Regions from separate parts of the Homo sapiens genome. Here region 2 is linked to region 1. Evidence: fine-mapped expression QTL. A gene starts in region 1. The other region holds a variant in brackets. All regions are shown on one strand. Distances are from middle to middle.

What was found.
Region 2: its variant is fine-mapped to the expression of COQ10A in spinal cord (GTEx, PIP above 0.99).

What each region holds. Positions count from the first base shown.
Region 1 is chr12:56,262,239-56,270,461 of GRCh38, forward strand. COQ10A (coenzyme Q10A) reads left to right here and starts at 4,704. Exons shown (of 5, transcript NM_144576.4): 1 at 4,704-5,014; 2 at 5,556-5,702; 3 at 6,821-7,013; 4 at 7,222-7,323; 5 at 7,912-8,223. The coding sequence starts at 4,881. The coding sequence ends at 8,079. RefSeq lists enhancers at 158-327, 1,781-1,950, 4,597-4,706, 4,775-5,274, 4,798-4,967 and 1 more, a silencer at 4,807-5,136 and a cis regulatory region at 4,883.
Region 2 is chr12:56,890,175-56,898,397 of GRCh38, forward strand. No RefSeq gene overlaps it. Among named protein-coding and RNA genes, the nearest start is that of SDR9C7, 40 kb to the right of the region's middle. The variant C/T (reference allele first, on the strand shown) is at 3,201.

The DNA of each region.
Region 1 (8,223 bases):
GAAAGAAAATAAGTGAGATCATCACCCAACTTGGGGTATCACGGAAGAGGATAAACGGAAAGGTGGCGGCCGGGCACGGTGGCTCATGCCTGTAATCCCAGCACTTTGGGAGGCCAAGCAGGTGGATCACCTGAGGTTGGGAGTTCAAGACCAGCCTGATCAACATGGAGAAACCCCGTCTCTACTAAAAATACAAAATTAGCCGGGTGTGGTGGTGCATGCCTGTAATCCCAACTACTTGGGAGGCTGAGGTAGGAGAATCGCTTGAACCTAGGAGGCTGAGGTTGCAGTGAGCCGAGATCGCGCCATTGCACTCCGGCATGGGCAACAAGAGTGAAACTCTGTCTCAAAATTAAAAAAAAAAAAAATTAAAAAAAAAAAGAAAAGTTGACAAAACACATTTATAGTCCAGGCATGGTGGCTCATGCCTGTAATCCCAGCACTTTGGAAGGCCAACGTGGACATATTGCTTGAGTTCAGGAGTTTGAGACCAACCTGGGCAAGAAGATGAAACCCTGTCTCTACCAAAAATGTGGTAGTGTGCCCCTGTGGTCGCAGCTATTTGGGAGGCTGAGGTGGGAATATCACTTGAACCTGGAAGGCAGAGGTTGCAGTGAGCCGAGATTACACCAATGCACTCCAATCTGGGTGACAGAGTGAGACCCCCGTCTCAAAAATTAAATAGATAAATAATAAAACATATTCATTTGGTCAATAATTATTTTGAATTGGTAGTACTAACTGCTATAGAGGTAGAACAGCTTATTAAAAATGGGTTTTGATGATCACCCAATGGCTCTTGCTTACTTGAAATCCAGAGAAGATGGGCTCAAACTTTTTTTTTGAGACGGAGTTTTGCTCTTGTTGCCCAGGCTGGAGTGCAATGGCGCCATCTAGGCTCACCGCAACCTCTACCTCTGGGGTTCAAGTGATTCTCCTACCTCAGCCTCCCGAGTAGCTGGGATTACAGGCATGCACCACCACGCCCGGCTAATTTTGTATTTTTAGTAGAGATGAGGTCTCTCCTTGTTGGTCAGGCTGGTCTTGAACTCCCAACCTCAGGTGATCCACCTGCTTGGCCTCCCAAAGTGCTGGGATTACAGGTGCGAACCATCTCGCCCCGCATTTTTTTTTTTTTTTTTTTTGAGACAGAGTCTCCGTCTGTCCCCCAGGCTGGAGTGCAGTGGCACAATATCCACTCACTGCAACCTCTGCCTCCCGGGCTCAAGTGATTCTCTGCCACAGCCTCCCGAGTAGCTGGGACTATAGGTGCGTACCACCACATCTGGCTTTTTGTTTTGTTTTGTTTTGTTTTTGAAACGGAGTCTCGCTGTGTCGCCCAGGCTAGACTGCAGTGGCGTGATCTCGGCCTACTGCAACCTCCGCCTCCCAGGTTCAGGCCATTCTCCTGCCTCAACCTCAGCCTCCTGAGTAGCCAGGACTACAGGCGCCCGCCACCATGCCCAGCTAATTTTTTGTATTTTTAGTAGAGACAGGGTTTCACCATGTTAGCCAGGATGGTCTCCATCTCCTGACCTCGTGATCCACCCGCCTTGGCCTCCCAAAGTGCTGGGATTACAGGCAGTGAGCCACTGCGCCCGGACATGTTTTGTATTTTTTGTAGAAATGGGTTTTTGCCACGTTGGCCAGGATGGTTTTGATCTCCTGACCTCATGATCCGCCTGCCTTGGCCTCCCAAAGTGCTGGGATTACAGGTGTGAGCCACCGTGCCCGGCCCAAGAGCTACCCTGTTTCTAGACCAGATGTCTCTTCCAGATTAGTTGGACAAGAATTGCAACACAGTCTTTTTTTGTTTTTGTTTTTGTTTTTCTGAGACAGGGTCTCACTCCCGTCACACAGACTGGAGTGCAGTGGTGCAATCACGGCTCACTGCAGCCTCAACCTCCTGGGCCCAGGTGATCCAACTCAGACTCCCAAGTAGCTGGGATTACAGGCATGTGCCACCATGCCTGGCTAAATTTTTTTGTATTTTTTGTAGAGACAAGGTTTCACCATATTGCCCAGGCTGGTCTCAAACTCCCGGGCTCGGGTGATCCACCAACCTTCACCTCCCAAAGTGCTGCAATTACAGATATGAGCCACCATGCCTGGCTACAACACAGTCTTTATTTACTTTATCCCCTGCCCCTCTGCATAACCACCACACACAACACTTCTCAGGGAAAGATTTCCTGAAAGTGGAGAGCTTGACTGAAGATTTAGAAAGCAAGCAGAGGAAAGGCTTGTACTGTAATAGCATGAATTTCTTAAAACTCAACAGCAGGCACCACCATTCTCTTGCACCCACCTAGTTCTAGTCTCTCTTTTTTTTTTCTTTTTTATTTTTGGAGAGACAAGTTCTCACTATGTTGCCCAGGCTGGTCTTGAACTCCTGGCCTCAAGTGATCCTCCCACCTCAGCCTCCCAAAGTGCTGGGATTACAGGCATGAGCCACTGCACTTAGCCCAATCTCTTTCTAATTGTTGATTTCTTTCTTCCCTTCCTTTTTTTCTTTTGTTTGCCTGACTTTTTTTTTTTTTTTTTTTTGAGATGGAGTCTTGCACTGCTGCCCAGGCTGGAGTGCAGTGGTGCGATCTTGGCTCACTGCAAGCTCCGCTCCCCGGGTTCATGCCATTCTCCTGCCTCGGCCTCCTGAGTAGCTGGGACTACAGGTACCCACCACCACGCCCGGCTAATTTTTTGTATTTTTAGTAGAGATGCAGTTTCACCCTGTTAGCCAGGATGGTCTCGATCTCCTGACCTCGTGATCCACCCACCTCGGCCTCCCAAAGTGCTGAGATTACAGGCATGAGCCACCGCACCTGGCCCACCTGACTTTTATCAAGAGCATTTTTTCTCTTTCTTGCTCGCTTGCTTTCTTTTCTTTTCTTTCTTTCCTTTTTTTTTTTTTTTTTTTTTTGAGATGGAGTCTTGCTCTGTTGCTCAGGCTGGAGTGCAGTGGCACAATCTCAGCTCACTCCAACTTCCGCCTCCTGGGTTCAAGCGATTCTCCTGCCTCAGCCTCCCGAGTAGCTGGGATTAGAGGCGCCCGCCACCATACCTGGCTAATTTTTGTATTTTTAGTAGAGATAAGGTCTCACTATGTTGGCCAGGCTGGTCTTGAACTCCTGACCTCAAGTGATCTGCCCGCCTCAGCCTCCCAAAGTGCTGGGATTACAGACGTGAGCCACCATGCCTAGCCAAGAGCATTTTTTTTTTCTCCTTGAATCATGAAAAGTAGTATAGTGGTATTTAATTGCGTGGGTTTCTGTCCATGAGGTCTCACTCTTCATCAAGCGCACACTTTTCAAACAAAGATGGTTCTCTGTCCTAAGAATATCTGGTTCTTCCTACCTCGACTTCTTTCTATAAATATTAAAGGTAAAAACTATGCAGTCTTAGCCCAGAGCTTGGAATGTTAATCTCCTTTCCCAAAAATGTAGAACACAGCACTAACCACTTGTGGAAGCTACAAAGATGAACAGTGCTTCTAACTATAAACAAGGCCGAATATGATAAAGGCTCTGTGATGATTGAGTGTCAACTTGATTGGATTGAAGGAGGCAAAGTGTTGTTCCTGAGTGTCTGTGAGGGTGTTGCCAAAGGAGATTAACATTTAAGTCAGTGGACTGGAAGGAAGTGACCCAGTCTCAATGGTGGGCACCATCCAATCCGCTGCCAGCGACGCTAGAAAAAGTAGGCAGGGCTAGGCATGGTGGCTAACACCTGTAATCCCAGCACTTTGGGAAGCCGAGACGGGTGGATCACCTGAGGTCAGGAGTTCGAGACCAGCCTGGCCAACATGGCGAAACCCCATCTCTACTAAAAATACAAAAATTAGCTGGGCATGGTGGCGCATGCCTGTAATCCCAGGTACTGGGGAGGGGGGCGGGGCGGGGGTGGTGAGGCAGGAGGATCGCTTGAACCTGGGAGGCCAAGGTTGCAGTGAGCTGAGATCGTGCCACTGCACTCCAGTCTGGGCAACAGAGCGAGACTCCGTCTCAAATAAATAAATAAATAAATAAATAAATAAATAAATAAATAAAAGTAAAAGTAGGTGGAAGAAGCTGACTTGCTGAAGTCTTCCGGCCTTCGTCTTTCTCTCATGCTGGATGCTTCCTGCCCTCGAACATCAGACTCCAAGTTCTTCAGCTTTTGGACTCTTGGACTTACACCAGTGGTTTGCCAAGGGCTCTCGGGGCTTTGGCCACAGACTGAAGGCTGCACTGCCGGCTTCCCTACTTTTGAGGTTTTGGGCCTTGGACTGATCCACCACTGGCCTCCTTGCTCCTCAACTTGCAGACGGCCTAATGTGAGACTTTACCTTGTGATCCTGTGAGGCAATTCTTAATAAACTCCCTTTCATATATACATTTATCCTATTCACTATGTCCCTCTAGAGAACCTAAGGCTCTAACAGCGACGTTCAGAGGATCTACAGATATCTGCGGTAGACACGCCCACGAAGTCGCCTCTGTGCCTACCTATCGGGTCCTGTGACCACAGGCGACCTCAGTCCCCGAACCATCTTTGCAGCTTCTCAAACGCACACCCCAGTGCCCTTTCTCGCCACAGGTGTGAAACTACATCTCCCGACAGGCGGCGTTGTCCCCTTCCTTCCTTCCTTCCTCTCCCAGGCCCGAGCCATGGCAACAGCGTGACGTGGGGGTACCGAGATCTGCGGGAGCAGCGGTCCCGGCTTCAGTTCTAGCCTACCCGGCAGCCTGGACGGGAGCAAGGCGAGAGGTGCTGCCGCCTCCCGTCGCCCCTGCGCTCAGAGGTCCCGAACCAGCCCAGCCGCTGCCTCTTGCCGCTCCGCCTTTGGAGTGAGGAGGGCGCAGCCCGCGTCAGAACTTAGAGGGCCAGGCAGGGTCGCGCGCATGGCCTGGGCGGGCTCGCGGCGGGTCCCAGCTGGGACGCGCGCGGCAGCCGAGCGCTGCTGCCGGCTCTCGCTCAGCCCGGGCGCGCAACCGGCCCCGCCCCCAGGCCCTCTGCCACCGCCGCGACCAATGAGGTGAGAGGGAGGTGACCGCGGCTGAGGGCAGGGGGTCGCTGCGAACCCCGGGGTTCCGCGGTGGAGGGGTGCTATACTGGGATGCAGGCGCGGCGGGGACTGGCAGCAATCATGCCCTGGGAGCTAACGTAGAGCTTTGGATAATGCTTTTGCAAGTTGTACGAGAAGGGAAGTTCTCGGGGTGAGTGTCCAACCTCTTCTTGGCCCTCGCGGGCGCCCTGGGGTCCCCGGGGACAGTGATGCTTCCTTAAAGTCTTAGCTTTCAGCAGTAGTGTAGGCCCAGTCAAAGGCAACTGGCGCTTCCCACACACCCCTTTTTCTCATCCCCCTCACCCCGCCCCCAGCCCTGTCCTTAGCTGCCCTCGACCTTTTGCACTCGTGACTCCCTGGCCAGAGAGAGCCTAGCGGGCTGCAGCAGGTGCTGGGGGGAAAGCTTGTTTGGACGACCTTCGTCTGGGATGCACTCTTCTTCTCCTTCACCTACAAATGATAGAGGATTACGAAGAACTATACGGTTGGCTCCTCTTTCCTTTGGCCTTAGGTTTCTGACCTCCTGCAGCCTCCTCTTGCCTCGGGCTGCCCAGATCTTGGCGGCTGAGGCTGGCTTACCTTCGAGCCGTTCCTTCATGGGATTTGCTGCTCCCTTCACCAACAAGCGAAAGGCTTACTCGGAGCGTAGAATCATGGGGTAAGCATTCTCTGCCTTGCATCCTTGCACCTCCCTTTTCCCTCCAAATAACCCTGTCCAGGCAAGAATGTCAGGGTATCATCGGTGGGCAAGATTCATCCCTAGCCATCCCCCTCCCCAGCTACAATACTGATCCTCAGTCCTCCCCTGCCACTCTTCCGACCTTAATTTCTCCCTTCTTGGTTGCTGTGCATGTGCTTAAGTGAAATGAGACTAGGGTTGGACTATACTTTAAGACAACAGGGCGTAGCTGGGTGCGGTGGCTCACGCCTGTAATCCCAGGACTTTGGGAGGCTGAGGCGGGCCGATCGTTTTAGGTCAGGAGTTCGAGACCAGCCTGGCCAACATGGTGAAACCCTGTCTCCACTAAAAAAAAACACACACACAAGAATCAGCCTGGCACGGTGGCGGGCGCCTTTAATCCCAGCTATTTGGGAGGCTGAGGCAGGATAATCGCTGGAACCTGGGAGGCAGAGGTTGCAGTGAGCTGAGATTGCCCCACTGCACTCCAGCCTGGGCGACAGAGCAAGACTGTCTCAAAAAACAAAACAAAAAACAGGGTGTATTTTTCTGGTGACCATTTAAAAATAATTTTTATGGGTACCTAGTATGTGTAAATTAGCAGCGTAACCTTTTTAGTATATTTTGAGCATAATAGCTAAATTATCGAGCACTTGCTACATGCTAGCAGCTTGACTTAGATGTTTTACATAGATATTTCTCATTTAATTCTCACAACAAACCTATAAATCAGGTGAGAAAATGGAGACACAGGTAATTTACCTAAGGCCACATTGTTAAAAAATTGTTAAGAGCTGGGATCTGATCCTTGTGTGATCACCAGTAAAACTGACAGCCTCTGTTCTCCCTAGATGGTCCCTCTTAAAATCAAAATAAACAATGAATGCAAAAGCATTCTGTAAACTGCAAAATATAAGGTAACAGTATCATAAGGATTTACACGTTTGCTTTTGGGAAGTTATTCATCCAGGCTTATTTGGGATCTGTAGTTCCTGAAGGTGCGTGGTTAGTGGGCAAAGGTATGAATTAGGGGCCTATAGCAAGGAGGAACCTGACCCAGCTGGCAGCTCCTTGGCCTGTGATTCTTCTTCTCCTAGGTACTCAATGCAGGAGATGTATGAGGTGGTGTCCAACGTCCAGGAGTATCGTGAGTTTGTGCCCTGGTGTAAGAAGTCTCTGGTGGTATCCAGCCGTAAGGGTCATTTGAAAGCCCAGCTGGAGGTTGGCTTTCCACCTGTCATGGAACGTTACACCTCTGCAGTTTCCATGGTCAAACCTCACATGGTCAAGGTGAGGCCTGTATGGGAGGGATTGACAAGATTTTTTGTTTTTAGCAGTTTCATATGAAAGTGCTATTTTGGCCTTCCTTGTAAGTACTTTATGTCCATGTGTCAAGTATTTCCCTCATATCAGAAAAGAAGGAAAATGGCTTTCAATTCCTTTATATTGTATCCTATACTTAGTAATGTTATTTAACTACCTGATTACCCTATTCTAGGCTGTTTGTACTGATGGCAAGCTCTTCAACCACTTAGAGACTATTTGGCGATTCAGCCCTGGTATTCCTGCCTATCCTCGAACCTGCACTGTGGACTTTTCGGTGAGTCAGGAGGTTGTGTAGCAGAGGACGAGGACTGGGTATGAGGAAGGGCTGGGGTACTGTGACAGGGTTATTAATTTATTTGAGATGGAGTCTTGCTCCGTCACCCAGGCTGGAGTGCAATGGCACGATCTTGGCTCACTGCAACCTCCACCTTCTGGGTTCAAGCGATTTTCCTGCCTCAGCCTCCCAAGTAGCTGGGATTACAGGAGCCTGCTACCAAGCCCGACTGATTTTTTATTTTTAGTAGAGACGGGGTTTCACCATTTTGGCTAGGCTGCTCTCAAACTCCTGGCCTCAGGTGATCCGTCCGCCTTGGCCTCCCAAAGTGCTGGGATTACAGGCGTGAGCCACCGCACCGACCTGACAGGGTTATTCTTTAAGTATAGCTAGCATTTCCCAAGTCAGTTAGTCTGAGCTTGTGTCAGACTCGTACTCCGTGCTCAGTCCCAAGTTAGGGCTCTTACGGGGATCCACGAACTGGATGGGGAGGGGGAGAAAAGGCACTGAGGAACAGTTTCCTTGCATTTGGCCAGGGACTATCCAACATGGTCTGGAAGTTTCTGACTGTCTCTTACCCATTCCCAGATTTCCTTTGAATTTCGTTCTCTGCTGCACTCCCAGCTGGCCACCATGTTTTTTGATGAGGTTGTCAAACAGAATGTTGCTGCCTTTGAGCGTCGGGCAGCCACCAAGTTTGGTCCAGAAACAGCCATCCCCCGTGAACTGATGTTCCATGAGGTGCACCAGACTTGAGGCAAGGGATTGCTCCCTGACCTCCCTTCTACCCCACTTCCCTACACAATTCTCTTATTTATTTGGTTTGGCTCCTGTTCCAATTTGAAAGGAGTCTGTGTTCATAATACTGTTTCTCCTCTCAATTTCCCAGAAATTGGGTTC
Region 2 (8,223 bases), 630 kb after region 1:
TGGAGGAAGATCTACCAAGCAAACGAAAAGCAAAAAAAAAAAAAAAAAAACCAAAAAAAAAACAGGGGTTGCAATCCTAGTCTCTGATAAAACAGACTTTAAACCAACAAAGATCAAAAGAGACAAAGAAGGCCCTTACATAATGGTAAAGGGATCAATTCAACAAGAAGAGCTAACTATCCTAAATATATATGCACCCAATACAGGAGCACCCAGATTCATAAAGCAAGTCCTTAGAGACCTAAAAAGAGACTTAGACTCCAACACAATAATAACGGGAGACTTTAACACCCCACTGTCAAGATTAGACAGATCAACGAGACAGAAGGTTAACAAGGATATCCATGACTTGAACTCAGCTCTGCACCAAGCTGACCTAATAGACGTCTACAGAACTCTCCACCCCAAATCAACAGAATATACATTCCTCTCAGCACCACATCACACGTATTCCAAAATTGACAACATAGTCGGAAGCAAAGCACTCCTCGGCAAATGTAAAAGAACAGAAATCACAACAAACTGTCCCTCAGACCACAGTGCAATCAAATTAGAACTCAGGATTAAGAAACTTACTCAAAACCACTCAACTACATGGAAACTGAACAACCTGCTCCTGAATGACTACTGGCTAAAAAACGAAATGAAGGCAGAAATAAAGATGGTCTTTGAAACTGATGAGAACAAAAACACAATGTACCAGAATCTTTGGGACACATTTAAAGCAGTATGTAGAGGGAAATTTATAGCACAAAATGCCCACAAGAGAAAGCAGGAAAGATCTAAAATCAACATCCTAACATCACAATCAAAAGAACTAGACAAGCAAGAGCAAACAAATGGAAAAGCTTGCAGAAGGCAGGAAATAACTAAGAGCAGAGCAGAACTGAAGGAGATAGAGACACAAAAACCCTTCAAAAAATCAATGAATCTAGGAGCTGGTTTTTTGAAAAGATCAACAAAATTGATAGACCGCTAGCAAGACTAATAAAGAAGAAAAGAGAGAAGAATCAAATAGACACAATAAAAATGAGAAAGGGGATATCAGCACTGATCCCACAGAAACACAAACTACCATCAGAGAATACTATAAACACCTCTACACAAATAAACTACAAAATCTAGAAGAAACGGATACATTCCAGGACACACATACCCTCCCAGACTAAACCAGGAAGAACTTGAATCCCTGAATAGACCAATAACAGACTCTGAAATTGAGGCAATAATTAACAGCCTATCAACCAAAAAAAAGTCCAGGACCAGATGGATTCACAGCCGAATTCTACCAGAGGAAGAAAGAGGAACTGGTACCATTCCTTATAAACCTATTCCAATCAATAGAAAAAGAGGTAATTCTCCCTAACTCATTTTATGAGGCCAGCATCATCCTGATACCAAAGCCTGGCAGAGACACAACAAAAAAAGAGAATTTTAGACCAATATCCCTGATGAACATTGATGTGAAAATCCTCAATAAAATACTGGCAAACCAAATCTAGCAGCACATCAAAAAGCTTATCCAACAAGACCAATTTGGCTTTATCCCTGAGATGCAAGTCTGGTTCAACATATGCAAATCAACAAACATAATCCATCACACAAACAGAACCAAACACAAAACCACATGATTATCTCAATAGATGCAGAAAAGGCCTTTGACAAAATTCAACAGCCCTTCATGCTAAAAACTCAATAAACAAGGTATTGATGGGATGTATTTCAAAATAATAAGAACTATTTATGACAAACCCACAGCCAATATCATACTGAATGGGCAAAAACTGGAAGCATTCCCTCTGAAAACTGGCACAAGGCAGGGACGCCCTCTCTCACCATTCCTTTTCAACACAGTGTTGGAAGTTCTGGCCAGGGCAATCAGGCAACAGAAAGAAATAAAGGGCATTCACCTAGGAAAAGAGGAAGTCAAATTGTCCCTGTTTGCAGACGACATGATTGTATATTTAGAAAAACCCATCGTCTCAGCCCAAAATCTCCTCAAGCTGATAAGCAAATTCAGCAAAGTCTCAGGATACAAAATCAATGTGCAAAAATAACAAGCATTCCTATATACCAATAACAGACAAACTGAGAGCCAAATCATAAGTGAACTCCCATTCACAATTGCTACAAAGGATTAAAATACCTAGGAATCCAACTTACAAGGGATGTGAAGGACCTCTTCAAGGAGAACTACAAACCACGGCTCAATGAAATAAAAGAGGATACAAACAAATGGAAGAACATTCCATGGTCATGAATAGGAAAAGTCAATATCATGACAATGGCCATACTGCCTAGGGTAATTTATAGATTCAATGCCATCCCCATCAAGCTACCAATGACTTTCTTCACAGAATTGGAAAAAACTACTTTAAAGTTCATATGGAACCAAAAAAGAGCCCACATTGCCAAGACAATCCTAAGCCAAAAGAACAAAGCTGGAGGCATCATGCTACCTGACTTCAAACTATACTACAAGGCTACAGTAACCAAAACAGCATGGTACTGGTACCAAAACAGACATATAGACCAATGGAGCAGAACAGAGCCCTTAGAAATAACACCACACATCTAAAACCATCTGATCTTTGACAAACCTGACAAAAACAAGAAATGGGGAAAGGATTCCCTATTTAATAAATGGTGCTGGGAAAACTGGCTAGCCATATGTAGAAAGCTGAAACTGGATCCCTTCCTTACACCTTATACAAAAATTAATTCAAGATGGATTAAAGACTTCAACGTTAGACCTAAAACCATAAAAACCCTAGAAGAAAACCTAGGCTATACTATTCAGTACATAGGCATGGGCAAGGACTCCATGACTAAAACACCAAAAGCAATGGCAACAAAAGCCAAAATTGACCAATGGTATCTAATTAAACTAAAGAGCTTCTGCACAGCAAAATAAACTATCATCAGTGTGAACAGGCAACCTACAGAATGGGAGAAAATTTTTGCAATCTATCCATTAGACAAAGGGCTAATATCCAGAATCTACAAAGAACTTAAACAAATTTACAAGAAAAAATCAAACAACCCCATCAAAAAGTGGGCAAAGGATATGAACAGACACTTCTCAAAAGAAGACATTTATGCAGTGAAGAGACACATGAAAAAATGCTTATCTTCACTGGCCATCAGAGAAATGCAAATCAAAACCACAATGAGATACCATCTCACACCAGTTAGAATGG[C/T]GATCATTAAAAAGTCAGGAAACAACAGGTGCTGGAGAGGATGTGGAGAAATAGGAACACTTTTACACTGTTGGTGGGACTGTAAACTAGTTCGACTGTTGTGGAAGACAGTGGCAATTCCTCAAGGATCTAGAACTAGAAATACCGTTTGACCCAGCCATCCCATTACTGGGTATATACCCAAAGGACTATAAATCATGCTACTATAAAGACACATGCACATGTATGTTTATTGCGGCACTATTCACAACAGCAAAGACTTGGAACCAACCCAAATGTCCATCAGTGATTGACTGCATTAAGAAAATGTGGCACATATAGACCATGGAATACTATACAGCCATAAAAAAGGATGAGTTCATGTCCTTTGTAGGGACATGGATGAAGCTGGAAACCATCATTCTCAGCAAACTATCGCAAGGATAGAAAACCAAACACCGCATGTTCTCATTCATAAGTGGGAATTGAACAATGAGAACACTTGGACACAGGATGGGGAACATCACACACTGGGGTCTATCGTGGGGTAGGGGGAGGGGGAGGGATACCATTAGGGGAGATACCTAATGTAAATGACGAGTTAATGGGTGCAGCACACCAACATGGCACATGTATACATATGTAACAAACCTGCACATTGTGCACATGTACCCTAGAACTTAAAGTACAATAAAAAAAAAAGAGTCAAAGTGAACAATATGGCAGCTCATATAGAAATCATGCTAGAATAAGAGCTTCTCAATCCTAATATGATTTAATTACTAAGTCTTGGTAGCATATGCATTGATGTATTTTTTGTCAGGTTTAAATTAAATGTTCACTATCAAAAAAAAGAAATTGATAATATTTGCTAAATTGTATAAATAAAATAAAATAGATTAAACAAATTATGAAAAAATATGTTTTTAGTTGTAAGTTTAACAAATCAAACATTAATTTTAATAATCAAAGTATCCCCAGAAAAGATTTTCCTACTCATAAATGTCCTGCTCAAGAACACACACATACATACATGCACACACTCAAAGCCTCACTTAACACCTATAATTACAAAATGGGCTTCCAGTCAGGGCGATTCTAGGCACTGATATAATTCCCATGGAAAACAAGGCATTTAAATTATTCAACAGAAAAATTAACAAAAGACTCAAATACTGACTTGGCTAAAAAGAAAAACATCAATAAACATATGAAAAGAAATTTTACCTCCCCAGCAATTAAAGAAATGCCAAGTAAAACAAAAATTACTTTAAAATAACCAAATGTCTTGTTTGCTTGTTTCTGTTATAAATAAGTGTCTAAGGCTGGCAAGAACTCAAGGACCTGGGTATTCAGACACTGATTGAGCGTTCTGAAGGTAACTTGGTAGCTCGTAAAATAATCTTAAAAACCACATAAAATATGCACACCCATTGGATCAGCATTTTTATTTTCAAAATTTTACTATATGAAAGGTAACAATAAAATAACCACTTAAACATTTAACTATCTTGCAGTGCTGTGAATGATCGCTAAATATTGGAAACAATCCAGCCAGCCAAGAATAGATAAGATGTGGCACAGTCATACAATAAAAACACTGTGATGTAAATACGATATAAAATATATTTAGCACTTAAATGTGTATTAAGAGAAAAAAGTATCATATGAACACTATGACACAGTATTTATTTATTTGTTTAATTAAAAAAATTTTTTGAGACAATCTTGCTCTGTCACCCAGGCAAGATCACAGTGTGTATAGTGGCAAGATCACAGCTCACAGCAGCCTTGACCTCCTGTGCTCAAACAATCCTCCCACCTCAGCCTCCTGAGTAGCTGAGACCACAGAGATTTGCCACCATGCCTGGCTAATTTTTTTTTTGTACTTTTTTTTTTTTTTTGTAGAGACGAGGTTTTGCCATGTTGCCCAGGCTGGTCTCAAACTCCTGGGCTCAAGTGATCCTCCCACCTTGGCCTCCTCCCAGAGTGCTTGGATTACAGGCATGAGCCACTGCACTCAGCCCTGTGATCCATTTTTAAACCATAGACATGCATCAAAAAAAGTCTGTATGTATGGTCACAAACATATTAATACTGGTTGTCTCTGAGTGGTAGAGATATTATCTCTACTAACTATATCTATTAGTACTAGTACTATACTATTATCTCTACTAATAATAATGAGACATATATGCTCATTATTATTTCCTCCTTCTTTCTTATCCATGTGTTCTGATGTCTTACAATGAGCATATGTTACTTATATAATGAGGAAAAATGATAAAAGGGCTTGTGTGTGTGTGTGTGTTTTCTTGTTTGCTCCTTTGTTTTAAGGTAAATGGTAACAAGGGAAAAACAGATGAGACTCCAGGGTCTATAACACGGGTGAGGTTTATTAAATGTATACTCAAGCACTCCTTTTAATATCTGCTCAGGAACAACATAAACAACATTGCTACAAGGGGAAAATATGCCTGACAAATACACATTTCCTTTAGGAAGCAAATACATATGTGACATTCTTTGATCCCACAAACATGAGCACTTCATAAGAGCCCAGCACTGTAGGGTCAAGAAGACACCACTATTTGCAGGTTAGAATGGGTCTGTAGTAAACAGTCCCCTTATGCCTGTGCCAGTTATGAACGGCTCAATCATTCACCTTTCATTTTCCCCAAATGAAATGAAAACCAACTTGACATCCCTTGCCCTCCTCCACCATCCTTACCTTGTGCACACATCATGCACACACACTACACACATGCACACCACACACACCACACCATACACAACACACACATGCACATCACACACACACCACATACACACATTACACCACACACACCACCACACACCACACCACACACACACACATCACATCATACACACCACACACATGCACACCACATACACCACACCACATGCACCACACACATGCACCACACACACACCACACACACACAACACACATACCACACACACAACACTCATCACACATACACCACACACACTATACCACACACACCACACATGCACCAAACACACACATTACACACACCACATCACACACACACAACACACAGTCACTGCACACACACCCCACACACCCCCCCACACGCACCACATACACACCACACACAACACACACACAAACCACACCACACCACACACACACACCCCCCCAACACATGCACCACACACACACATTATTAGCTGTGTGGATGTCTCGACCTCGGGCACCCCCTCCTGCTCTCTGGAACATGTAAGAACCCCAGGCTTAAACTAGATGAAAGTGCTGTCCACCACCTTCCCTTCCCAGCAGGAGTGTTAAAAGAGAAGTTATTTATTCTAGAACTGGAAATTGGAAAACAGAGAATTTGGGTTGACTCTTTGAGCATATTGAAGACTTGCATATTTAGCCAACATGTATTCAGCCAATAGGTCATATTATTGTGGGATTTATCAGAATAGGACTTGTCATTATATTGGAGTTAGTGGCCATCAGTGTGTTTGGCTTAAGCTTGCAGGTGGCATCTGGACACCTGGAGTGAGCTGTGGAATGGGTCTACCTTACTTACTGTAGGTTTCTGCCTAGTCCCAGTTAGAAGCAGGGGTTCTTCCAGGAAAACATGTTAGTAAGAGAGAGAAATGAATATAACCAGACGCAGTAACAAGTGTGGGGATACGAAACAGTATGTGTCCCTTGCTGTCTGTCCCTAGAGACAGATCTGGTTAACTTCAATCAATAACATTTATAAGTAAGTGCAACCTATAGAAGCACAATGGAAACCTTCTTCAACCACGTGGAAAAAAGACCTATGAGAGAAGTGCATTGTAAGCCTGAGAGAGCTATTGGGGTAGATTGCAAGCCCACTAGCTCTATTCCTAAACGTTACCTTGGCACTTTAGGTAGAATCTTTCTCATTTTAGTGAGGACCTCAGCTTGCTTTCTATGGTACTGTCCATTCAAGAATCTATTCTAGTTAGCTTTGCATAAAAACTTGATTCACTTCCTATTAAAGGTGGAAGGCATCTGGGGACTTACACCCTCTCTTTTGCTAATAAAAAACCAAGAGAGCCTAGCAAGGTTAAGAAAATGCCCAACATCACAGATACACCATGGGATACTATGCAGCCATAAAAAGGAATGAGCTCATGTCCTTTGCAGGGACATGGATGAAGCTGGAAACCATCATCCTCAGCAAACTAACACAGGAACAGAAAACCAAACACCACATGTTCTTACTCATAAGTGGGAGTTGAACAATGAGAATACATGGACACAGGGAGGGGAGCATCACACACCAAGGCCTGTCAGGGCATGGGGGAAAGGTGAGGGAGAGCATTAGGACAAATACCTAATGCATGCAGGGCTTAAAACCTAGAAGACAGGTTGATAGTTGCAGCAAACCACCATGGCACGTATATACCTATGTAACAAACCTGCACATTCAGCACATGTATCCCAGAACTTAAAATTAAAAAAAAGAAACTTGCCCAACATCACACAGTTACTCAATAGTAGACCCAGGACTAGAATTTCAAGGTTATCTAGTCCAACCCCCATCAGGTACCTGAACTCTTGTAGAGAAGCCCAGCCAATTGGCTTGGCACCTCATGCTCAGAAGCTTCCAGGAATTTGGGGATTTTGTTTCTCAATTGCCAGGCCAAGGATCCCTTTTATTGCTACACATTTACCTTTGTAAACCTATCTGGCTAAAATAAATGTCAATATGAGCTGGAATTCCTGGAAGATAAAATGCCAAATTACATAGGTAGGGTGAGGCAAGGAGACAAAGTAGAGAAGGTGACCTAGAAGTAAGGTGAGTGGGTGAGAGGTTGAGTTAAACTTGCCTGGTCTTGAACATTTGTGAATAATGCACAGTGTAGGCCAGTTAGCTGCCTGCCTAGTTCTGACTCATTCCTTACTCTCAGTGCAGACATTACTTCTTCCAAGAAATCTTCTCTGACCTCCCAAGCCTAGACTAATTGCCTCTGCCTTGTATGAGTTCCTATGACAGCCTATTCTTCTCTTGCCATT